Regions from separate parts of the Homo sapiens genome. Here region 1 is linked to region 2. The links come from fine-mapping of genetic effects on gene expression. A gene starts in region 2. The other region holds a variant in brackets. All regions are shown on one strand. Distances are between the middles of the regions.

Region 1 (5,497 bases), 28 kb after region 2:
TTATAGTGAAATCAGGACTGCGAATTTGAGTTGGAGTTTCCAGGGAGGAAAAAACTTAGACATTACTTTCCTCAGCTGCTTCCTTTGGTGGATGCTATTCATGTGGGGATTTTGTAAAGTTTAATTTTCCAGAGTGCTTTAACATCATGTATTTTTCAATGTGATAAAAAAATTTATTTTAAAGCAGTCTCTGAAAAGAGGTTGTAGGTTTTCTGTTTCAGTGGTTCTCATGGTATCATTCACAGAAGATTCTCCATGGAAGAAGAAGAGTTGTATTTTAGCATTATGTTGTAATACTATGTTTGTATGTACTTTTTCTTTTTTAAACATGTAGTTTATTAATTCATCAGAGGTAACCAGTGAAGATTGTGGCTGCTGATGTCTTTTATCTCACCAGGGTGGAACGGGACCTAAACATTTGAGAACAATTAGTTTTATTACCTTCTATCAATTTCTTGAATAGGTTTTGGAGAAAAGGGTAGCAATAGAATATGCTTTACTGACTTCTATTAAATGCTGGGGGGAGCCTGATGGCCTTGGAACTCTTTTGCCAATTTAGTGGGGCATTTCGTGTTTAAAATGCCCACAGTCAGGGCCACTGCAGAATCTGTTATAAGTGGGCTATAGTGGTGACTACAGCTGTTCAAAAGACTTCCTTTTGTTGATTGTTGTTAAACGAATACTGCTGATGTCATATATTGAGTCCTTCTTCATTGAGATCTTTCTGGGGTGTATTATGACTTTGGAGATTAAACATTGTCATATATGTTAAATATGTAGCAATTTAAGAGAGACATACCTTGGCTTGAAGCCTGGCTTGTTCTCATAATCATGTGCCATGTGAACCTTTCAATAGCCTTCTACTTATTCTTCTTACTTTCTTTTTTTTTAAAAAAAAAAAAACAGATCAGAATAAGTTTTAAAACTCTTGAAGGCTTCCTATTGCCTTTAAATTAAGTTCAGTCTCCCTATCATAGCCCACTTAGCGCTAAGCCTCATCCAGTACCATTCTCTCTCTTGTTCACCACTGATCTTATCTCTCTTTCTACATTAAACTCTTTCTGGCCTCTGGCTCTTTGTATTTTCTGTTTCTTCTTTCTAGAGTTCTTTCTTTGTCTGGCTCCTTCAGGCTTCGGTTCCATTGCCACCTCCATAGAGAGGCCTTCTGTATTAGTTTCTTAGGGCTGCAGAGTATCACAAACTAGGAGGCTTAAAACAATAGAAGTTTATCCTCTCACTTCCCGAGGCCAGAAGTCCAAAGTCAGGGTGTCAGCAGGATTGGTTACTTCTTGGGGACTCCTGGGGAGAGCCTGGTCCGGGCTCCGGGGAAGAGTCTGGTCTGTGTCCCTCGCTAAGCTTCTGCTGGCTGTTGGCAGTCCTTGGCGTTCTTTTGCTGGAAGCTGCTTGACTCCAGTCTCTGCTTCCATTGTCACATGGCCATTTTGCTTTTGTGCATCTGTGTCTTAACATGGCATTCTTCTCTCTGTGCCTCTTTGTCTCTTCTTTTCTTATAAGAACACCAGTCATATTGGATTAAGGGCCCACCCCTCTCCAGCATGCCCTCATCTTAACTAATGACATCTGCAATGATCCTATTTCTAAATAAAGTCACATTCTGAGGTTCTAGGAAGGACATAAATTTTGGGGGGATGCTATGCAACCCAGTATACCTACATGACTTTCAATTTAAAGTAGGCTGTGTTATTGGAGCTATACAGTAGTCCTCCCTTCTTCGCGGGGGATACGTTTCAAGACCCCCAGTAGATGCCAGAGATGTCGGTTAGTACTGAACCCTATATATAGTATGTTTTTTCCTATACATACATACCTGTGATAAAGTTTTATTTATAAATTAGGCACAATAAGAGATTAACAACAATAATGAATAATAAACAACTATGACACATTATGTGAACGCGTAGTCTCTTTCTCTCTCTCAAAATATCTTGTTGTACTGTACTCACCTATTTTCTGACCATGGTTGACCATGGGTAACTGAAACTGCAGAAAGCAAAACCATGGATAAGGTCTATAAGCACACTCATCGGTTATTTATTCCTGGCCAGTGATGAGCAAGGCACTTTATTAGACCACGTTACATATTGTACTCAGCTCTGGGCACACCATCTGTAAGAGGGAATGTTAATTAATCCAGTGTGAGCAGGGTTAGGAGGACTTTAGAATATAGTGTTATATGGGAAATAGTAAGAACTGGGGTTGCTCAGTTGGAGAACAGAAGATTTATGAGGTCATCACAGTTCTTTGCAGGAGGAGTGGTAGTATGCAAGATTGGATTGTGAGTTACATAGATCACAGGTCTGAACTCCTGTTCGTGAGAAACGTGGTTTTTGCCTTTTTTGGAGGTTGAGGGGTCTTTGTCCTTTTACATTATACCAGCAGATACCAGCCTCTATCTCTCAGAAGATGTGATGTAGTTATAACAGTGGTGTCAGGAGAATATTTTGCATGTATAGAAGAAACATTCAGAACAGTCCAGGTGCAATGGCTTATGCCTATAATCCCAGCACTTTGGGAGGGCAAGGCGGGTGGATCACTTGAGTTCAGGAGTTCGAGACCAGCCTGGGCAACATGGCAAAACCCCGTCTCTACTAAAAATACAAAAAGTAGCAGGGAATGGTGGGGCACGCCCATAGTCGCAGCTACTCAGAGGCTGAGGCAGGAGAATTGCTTGAACCCAGGAGACGAAGTTTGCACGAGCCAAGATCATGCCACTGCACTCCAGCCTGGGCGACAGAGTCAGATTCTGTTTCAAAAAAAAAAAAAAAAAAAAAGAGAAACATTTAGAACAATAGACTATAAAGGAAGAAAATCAGTAACACATCATCTTATGTTTAACAAAGCAGAAGAATATAAACT[T/C]TCAAGGCCTTGATGATATGCAGCCTTACATTATTTTTATGAGATTATTATTGAAATGCTTATATATCATATATATGAGTTCTGGCAAGATTATTTACTCCTTAAAATAGAATAAATACAGCATAGTTTAGATTACCTTGCAAATCAGCAAACAGATTATGGCAGCATTTGTCTGTGGTGGACAGGACCTCATAGCTCTGGGCATATTCAGGCTGCATGAAGATAGGAATGACCTTAATTCTCTTGCCCCCTGTCCTCTCACAACCCCTTTATGACATTCTCATCCTAGTTTTATCCAACCATTAAACTTCTCTGCTCCTGCTCCTGGGTTGTAAATATCTGCTAAGCGGCAGATTATTGTGCATACCAATTCAGTCTCCAACCTCAGGAGCTTTATGGAGGCCTAGGCATCAGTTTTTTCTTCCATGCTGAACTTTTACCTCTGTCTTTAAATCATTGCCATCCTAGGCTCTCTTTTACTATCTCTTTTAATAGATTACTTTGTCCCTTTACTTCATTGACTAAAAACTAAGGTGTTATATGAGAGGCATTTTAACTAGAATCCTTTTAGTTTCCTCCCTCGGTAATTAGAAAGATAACTCTTGCATCCATCTGTTTCCCAGTGGAGAAGGGGTTCCCAAGTCAGATCCTTCTGTTGGTGCTATTGACCCCATTCCCTCCTTCCTTCCCAGGATCTCGCAGCATCACATATCCCTCACTTACCTAGAGTCTCAACTATTCCCTCCAATTACTTTTTGTCCTAGGGTATTATACCTCTTCCCTGTTTCTTCCTTCTTAAAACTCTGTTGTTGGAAACACAAATTTTACACATTGATCAAATCAACATTTTGCAGCACATGTGGATTCACCAAACACTAGTATGCTGCTGAACGAGCTGCTATGTTGTACATTTTACAGAAAGCTGTTTCTCAGGTAAAGTTATTGTGTCCTGGCTGACAGCCATGACTTTAAAGTCCTTTCCAGTCTTAAAAACTTTGACTTATAACCTTGTCACCAAGATCAATTATATTTTAGGTAATATGCTTTGGTAAAATGCTGATTAGTCCTTCTCCTGCACTCCCTGCAATGTTGGCCTTCTGTCCATATTATTTGTAGTTATATAGAACTGTTTCTTCACCCAGCAGAAGGCATGCATTTCCTGCTTCCTCAGCAGTCCAAATGTTATGTGGTGCTCTTAGATTTAAGGCTTGGGTTCTCCATTAGGCATGTGATTTGTCACTGGGCAAAAGGCACATCCAACTACAGTGTTGTGCAACTCTTCCAAAGCTGGGAACAGACCCACCCAATAAATGAACCTGCACAAACTTGACCTTCTTGGGAACTTTGCTTTCCATTCTCATTTTTGTTTTTATACCAACTGCAGAGCCATGATGCATGCATGCATTCATTTACTCTCTATATATTCATTGGTCTTCTACTACATGCCAGGCCTTATTCCAGTCACTGTGTACTCAGAAGTGGACAAAACAGAAAAAAGTCCCTGCCTATTTGAGTCTATTTCCAGTGGATGTTTTTCATTCACTGTTGGTTTAGAGAAACAATCTTGGATTTCAGCTAGGTTTCTTTCCTCCCTTTCTCCCTCTCTTCCTTCTTTCCTTCCTCCTTTCCCTTCCCTTCCTTCTCTTTCTTCTGTCTCTCTATACCGCTTTCTTTCTTTCCTTCCTTCCTTTCTTCCTTCTTTCTTTTCTTCTTTTCTTCTTCTTTTTTTTTTTTTTTGAGATGGAGTCTCACTCTGTCGCCCAGGCTGGAGTGCAGTGGCATGATCATAGTTCACTGTAACCTTGAACTTCTGGGCTCAAGGGATCCTCTGATCTCAGCGTCCTGAGTAGCTAGGACTATAGGCATGTACCACCACACCCGGCTAATATTTTTATTTTTTGTAGAGACAGGGTCTTGCTATGTTGCCCAGGCTGGTCTTGAACTCCTGGGCTCAAGTGATCCTACCACCTTGGCCTCCTGAAGTGTTGGAATTACAGGTGTGAGCCAGTGCACCTGGCCTAGGTTTTTCTTTTTCCTTATTTATTTATTTATTTTTTGAGACAGAGTCTTGCTCTGTCACCCAGGTGGGAATGCAGTGGTGTGATCTTGGCTTACCGCAACCTCTGCCTCCCAGGTTCAAGTGATTCTCGGGCCTCAGCCTCCCAAGTAGCTGAGATTATAGGCGTGTATCACCATGCCTGGCTAATTTTTTGTATTTTTGTAGAGAAGAGGTTTTGCCATGTTGGGCAGGCTGGTCTCGAACTCCTGGCCTCAATTTGATCCTCCCGCCTCAGCCTCCCAAAGCGCTGGGATTAAAGGTGTGAGCCATTGTGGCAGCCCAGTGAGTCTAATCTCATCTCCCATGTCTTCCCCTCATAAACCTCTTGCCGTAAAACAACAGTTCCTGAATTTATGCTCATTCTGTATAGCTCATCATAGCCTTGCACATGTTTTTCTTCCTTTGCTTGAAATGCTCTTTTGTACCTGAAAAAAAAAAATTCTTCTCTGTGTTTCAGCTCAGATATTACCTCCTTGGTGCAGCCCTCTGTAATTTCCTCAGGCAGGGTGGTGACTTTGGCTTCTGAGCTCCCACAGTGCTTTGTATACAGAACTTAACCAC
Region 2 (5,234 bases):
GAACAGATCTGAGATATTCAAGAGGCTGGTAGGGACTGGCTGGATGTGAAAAGGAAGAAAACTTTCAAGCTCTGGTTTAAGCACATGGCTCAGTTAAAATATGTTCCTTCTAAGCCATCATAGCATTTTGGAAGATCCCCTTTCAGCACGTACTACTCTGCACAGTGGCCCACTGAATACGTATTTGCACATTACAGAAGCAAGAGTCGCGCCTTTTCCTCTCTATTTCCGATTCTAAAAGCTCACTCCGAGTCTAGCTCGATGGCACTGTAAGTGTTCAATAAACGTTCGTTAGGTGATTGCAAAAGCACTGAGTCTAAAATAAAATAACTGACGTTTATATTCTGTTACCCTCATGGCTGCCCGTTTACAGAGAACCACTTGTGAAAAAACAAGCGCCGGGCTCTGGGTGGGTCTCATTCATAATGAAGTTAAGAGCCTCCTTAGGAGTCTCCGGCTCTTCGGCTTCCCGAGAACCCCTTTACCCAGCTCACCTGGGGGAGAAGACCAGGAACGGGCCCAGGCGACGCACAGTGACTCGGACCGGCCGAACTCAGTAGCACGCCGGCAGCCTTCCAATCGAATCTCCCGCGTCCTTTTCCGCCGGAAGTAACGCTTTGGCTCTGATTACTCAGAGCCAATCAGAAGAAGGCGCCGCAGAGGGTGGAGCTTAGCGAGGAAATCCTACAAGCATCTGGAAACGACCATTTTCGTCAAACTGCGGGTAGAGTCTTTCTCCCCGACAGGTGGATCAGTAGTACAGTCCGTAAAATTGGTTTTGGAGCTTCGCTGAGCCTCCTGGGCGTAGGGTTCCCGGGAAAGTGTGGAGTGAGCCGCAGCGCCCTGGGGTCTGGCGGGGTGACTGAAAGAGGGAATGGAAGCTGGATGAAGAGGGTTGAGGGAGCTTTGGAAGCCAGACCCGGCGCTGTCCTAGGGGCTAGCACTACCCACGGGCGGAGGGAGGAAGGGGGCGGTGGCAGGAGGCAGGAGGGGGGTGGAGCGCGGAGTGGGTTTTCGGGTGCCGGAGAAGAAAGGGGGCGTTATTTGAAAGAAGGGACCGGGACCTGGCGGGATTTAGGGGCGATGTGGACCCGGGGCGACCTGTGTAATGGATGGGTTGTGCGAGCAACACAGTTTTGGGGTGACCCAAGAACGGAGTATCATAGGGAGTGGTTAGGCTCCAGATGGAGGTGGGTGCAAGGAGCACAGTCTTTGGACCTGGACCCAGCGGTCTGCGACGACGTGCTCCGCTCACTGCTGAGTGATCTAGTGCAAGTTCCCGCACCTCTCTGAGCCTCAGTTTCCACATCTGTAGATGGGAATAACAATCATATACGACGCACAAGATTGCTGTGACGATTTAGTTAGAGGAGATGATGCGTGTGCCTCCCTGCCTCGTGATACACTGGCCTGTAGTGAACCTTCAATAAATTGTCATGGTAGCTGTTATTGCCGTTACGTAGGATTTGCGGAAGGCAGGAGGTGTCGCAATGGAATTGCGGTGGCCAGGGCAGGGTTTGGTGGTGATGATAATGGTAGGGATATTGGGTGACCTGAAGGACAGGTGGGCTTCGGGGGCGCTATAGATAAAGCATGGGCTACAGCGATGAGTTAGGAAGAGGCCCTAGCATGATAAGGGCAGACTTGGGGTGTGACCGCAATGAAGGTGAGTGCTAAGGAGCAGATGGCACGAGAGGAAAGTGGAGTGGAGGCGGTGTCCTCGGGGATGGGGGCGGAGTGGCTGTGGTGACCTGGCTTGGGCGGCGTCTCTGAGGAGCTGGCTGGCTTTGGGTTTCCCCTGGGAGGAGCTGTTTTGCGGCGGGCGGAGCTGCAGGCTGGGCAGGGCTTAGCCTGTGCGCTTCTGCTGGCCTCCTTTTCGCCCTCCCACCCGCACTGCAGTCTCCAGCCTGAGCCATGGGCCGCCGAGCCCTCCTGCTCCTGCTTCTGTCTTTTCTGGCGCCCTGGGCCACCATAGCCCTCCGGCCGGCCTTAAGGGCCCTCGGCAGCCTACACTTGCCAACCAACCCCACATCCCTCCCGGCTGTAGCCAAGAACTATTCGGTTCTCTACTTCCAACAGAAGGTAAGGGGGAGCGGGGGCTTCGCCGTCCCAGGCCCAACCGCCGGGAACCCTGACCCTCAGAGCCCGGGCAACGGAGCCTACCTCGAAATTCACACCCCTTGATGCCTAGGATCTGTTCGGTTTTTGGCTAACATCTTCCAGAAGGTGGTCCCAAATCCCAGTTCTGTTTAAATTTTCTCCTCCCATTACCAATAATTTGGTAGTAGTTTTGGCTGCATACTCTTGATTCAGGCTTTTCTGTAATTGGACACGACAGTCACTTCAACTCCCTCTGCTCCCAGAGGGTGCCCCAATCCGAACTCCCTTGACCTTCCCTCAAATTCAAATTATTAAATGCCAGCTCTGGTACCTAGTCTGCGGTGATAGTCATCCTTTGCCCCAAGGCAGCCCTAAATACAAATTTTAATATCTTTACCTATTAGAAAATATTGGATAGTTATCCATCCTAAAAGCCAGCCTCTCAGAAGGGGTCAGCTCAGAGCTGATTTTGTAGCCCTATTATTAAGAATTGTTGACAGTCCCTATTCCCCATAAGACTGAATGTATGTAGCCTATGCTTGTAAAAGGAGTTGTAGGAGTTTGTGGTGGGGGTGGGGATTAGCCTTTCTATGGTCTGTAACGTGAAATTAGAGGTTTTTGGGCTTGATGCCTTTGTGCTTGGCTGCAGCATGAGGCATTCCCCCACAGGTCTTGATGGAAAAGTACATCCTCTGTGAAATGACAAGTAATCCTTACAGTTCAGCATTTCTGAAAGCCTGTGTAAAAATAGGAAAAGATTTGGAAAAGGTTGGGATTAGAAAGAGTGCAAGGGTCTGAAGCTTGGCTTTAGGAGTCAGATAGAACCGGATTCCACCCTGCTAGCTCTGTGACCTTGGGCAGGTTACAGTACTTCTGTGAGCCTAGTTCCTTGATCTCTTGGGGTTTGTGGTGATGGTTGAATGAGAGCAGATAACGTACTCTTAGCAGAGTATCTGGCTTCAAGTAGGCACTCATATAATATGTGGTTATAGACCTATGTGAAATTTTGTTGTTGTTAATTGTGCAGAGACAAGGCTCACTATGTTGCCCAGGCTAGTCTTGAACTTGTGGGCTCAATAATCCTTCTGCATCAGCCTCCCAAAGTGTTGGGATTACAGGTGTGAGCCACTGAGCCCAGCCCTTATGTGAATTTGGAATGGGAATTTGTGGTAGAGGGATGTCATAGACTTCCAGAATAACTTAGAAATAATTTAAAAATTTTTTTATTTTTAAAAATAGAGATGGGATTTTGTCATCTTGCCTAGGCTGGTCTTGAACTCCTGGGCTCAAGCGATGCCCCTGTCTTGGCCTCCCAAAGGGCTGGGATTGCAGGCGTGTGCCACTGTGTCCCCAGCCAAGAAACAATTTTTAACCCAGACATTTGAGTTCAAGTTTATGAGGAAGAGAAAACATTTTAATTTTAGCAGGGGTACTAGGAAATAATCTTTTTTCTCAGGCAACTCCCTTAAATTAATTCTCTAGGGCATAATTCCCTCATTTGTAAATTAGGAGGGTTGGGACAAGGACCAATGTGTTTTACACTTTACTGAGGAAAATTAAGGGCTCTTTGGGGAGCTGTTTCAGAGGGAAAGTGGATGAAGGCTGAAGTGGAGGCCAAATTAGGTGCTCTAGTACCCTCTCTTGGATCTCTTTCAGCTTTTACCTGTTTTATATGCTGGGATTTTATATACAACTATTTGCAGAACTCAACTGCTAAAGTAAAACGGTGGGGAGGACTATTGGATTGGGAGATCTCTAAAATCCCATTGGGATTGATGAAAAAGAGAACTATCAGCAGAAAAGAGGAAGGGAACAAATGAGTTGTTAGTACCTTAGTTCCTAATTTATGTTCCTTTATTGTAGATTCTTTTCTTGGCCACTACACTCCTTAGAAATATAATTCAACACTGTTTCTTTTTCCATTTTTGATGATATGCAAAGTCCAGCTTTACTCAGCCACATTTTGTCCACTGGCTTATATTTAATTTATATTTTAGGATACAGATTCCACGTATGTATTTATTACCATAATAATAATTTTTCTTCTGTCTATTCCAATTGAGTTTTATTTCATTTTCTGAGGAAAACTTTTACATATGTATTTATTGCATAATTATAATTATACTAGTTGCCAATTTCTGAACCATTGATTTTTAGTTAGGACTATGTGTGAACTCAACTTTAAGTTTTTAAGTTAGAGCACATGAAATACTTTGATGCCTTCTAGTAATAAACTTATTATTAAAACTGTAAGGCTTAGTTTTTTATTCAAGGTTTAATTTTTATTAAACTTTATAATGATTTACCTGTGGTTATATCTGCCCCAGTGACCAAGCTGGACCCAGCTGTCCTTCTATGTATATAAAGGATGTGGTTTTATGGAGTGGTCTCTAAGAAGGCTTAGCCCATGGTCTTATCCCTCCCCTGCTTAGAAATTCTTCATAACTCTGATTGCAGGATAAAGGCCAAACACCTTGGCATGGGAATCCATTGTTCCTTACTATGTAACCCTAGCTGGTCGTTCCAACTTTATATTCTGCCATAATTCCCCATCCCAGCTCCCACTTTTAGCAACCTAACAGACTCAAGTGACTTTTACTGTGTCAGAAATTCTGTCTGGAATACCATCCCTCTTCCCCACTATTTAAACTCATAATTCTATTCCAGCAGAAATGTCTCACCTCTTCTGCGAATCTTTGACTTCTTTAAGGAAATTTAGTTGGTCTTTTTTCATCCTGCACATTTACTATATTGTATGTGTCCCTCCAGCTCGTTAGTACTCTACAATACCTAGAAGAGCCTATAAAAAAGTATAAAGCACAAAATAAATAGTTGTTGAAAGAGTGAATGCATGATTATTCAAAAAGAACCTAAACAAAGCAAAGGCTACCATCATTTAATTGTCACAAATCATTTTTTATTTTTCTTTTTATCTTTTACTTTAATTCTTTACTAATTATTTTTTCCTCCTTTTTCAAGGTCTTCAAATATTGAGTTAGGTAGGACTATTTGATTTCTTTTACCTGAAATAACTGAATTAGGAGACCAGAGAGAGGATAGTACATCACTTGGGCACATCGAGGCTCTGGGTACATGTGTAGTATGTGTGGTATCAGTGTCATAAAGGGCTCTCT

Evidence for each region. PIP is the estimated chance that this variant, and not a neighbour inherited with it, causes the effect. A credible set is the group of variants that fine-mapping cannot tell apart.
Region 1: its variant is the best candidate, but not a certain one, in a credible set for the expression of PRCP in blood mononuclear cells (TOPMed, PIP 0.75).

Annotation. Positions count from the first base shown.
Region 1 is chr11:82,868,473-82,873,969 of GRCh38, reverse strand. All of the region lies in intron 1 of PRCP (prolylcarboxypeptidase), which reads left to right. Among named protein-coding and RNA genes, the nearest start is that of PRCP, 29 kb to the left of the region's middle. The variant T/C (reference allele first, on the strand shown) is at 2,878.
Region 2 is chr11:82,897,083-82,902,316 of GRCh38, reverse strand. PRCP (prolylcarboxypeptidase) reads left to right here and starts at 1,887. Exons shown (of 9, transcript NM_005040.4): 1 at 1,887-2,082. The coding sequence starts at 1,915. It overlaps DDIAS (DNA damage induced apoptosis suppressor), which reads right to left and starts at 581. Exons shown (of 6, transcript NM_145018.4): 1 at 495-581. LOC124902602 reads left to right here and starts at 262. Exons shown (of 2, transcript XM_047427953.1): 1 at 262-269; 2 at 636-1,403. The coding sequence starts at 262. The coding sequence ends at 1,293. RefSeq lists silencers at 952-1,041, 1,092-1,141 and enhancers at 1,352-1,401, 1,682-1,781, 1,932-1,991, 2,112-2,161.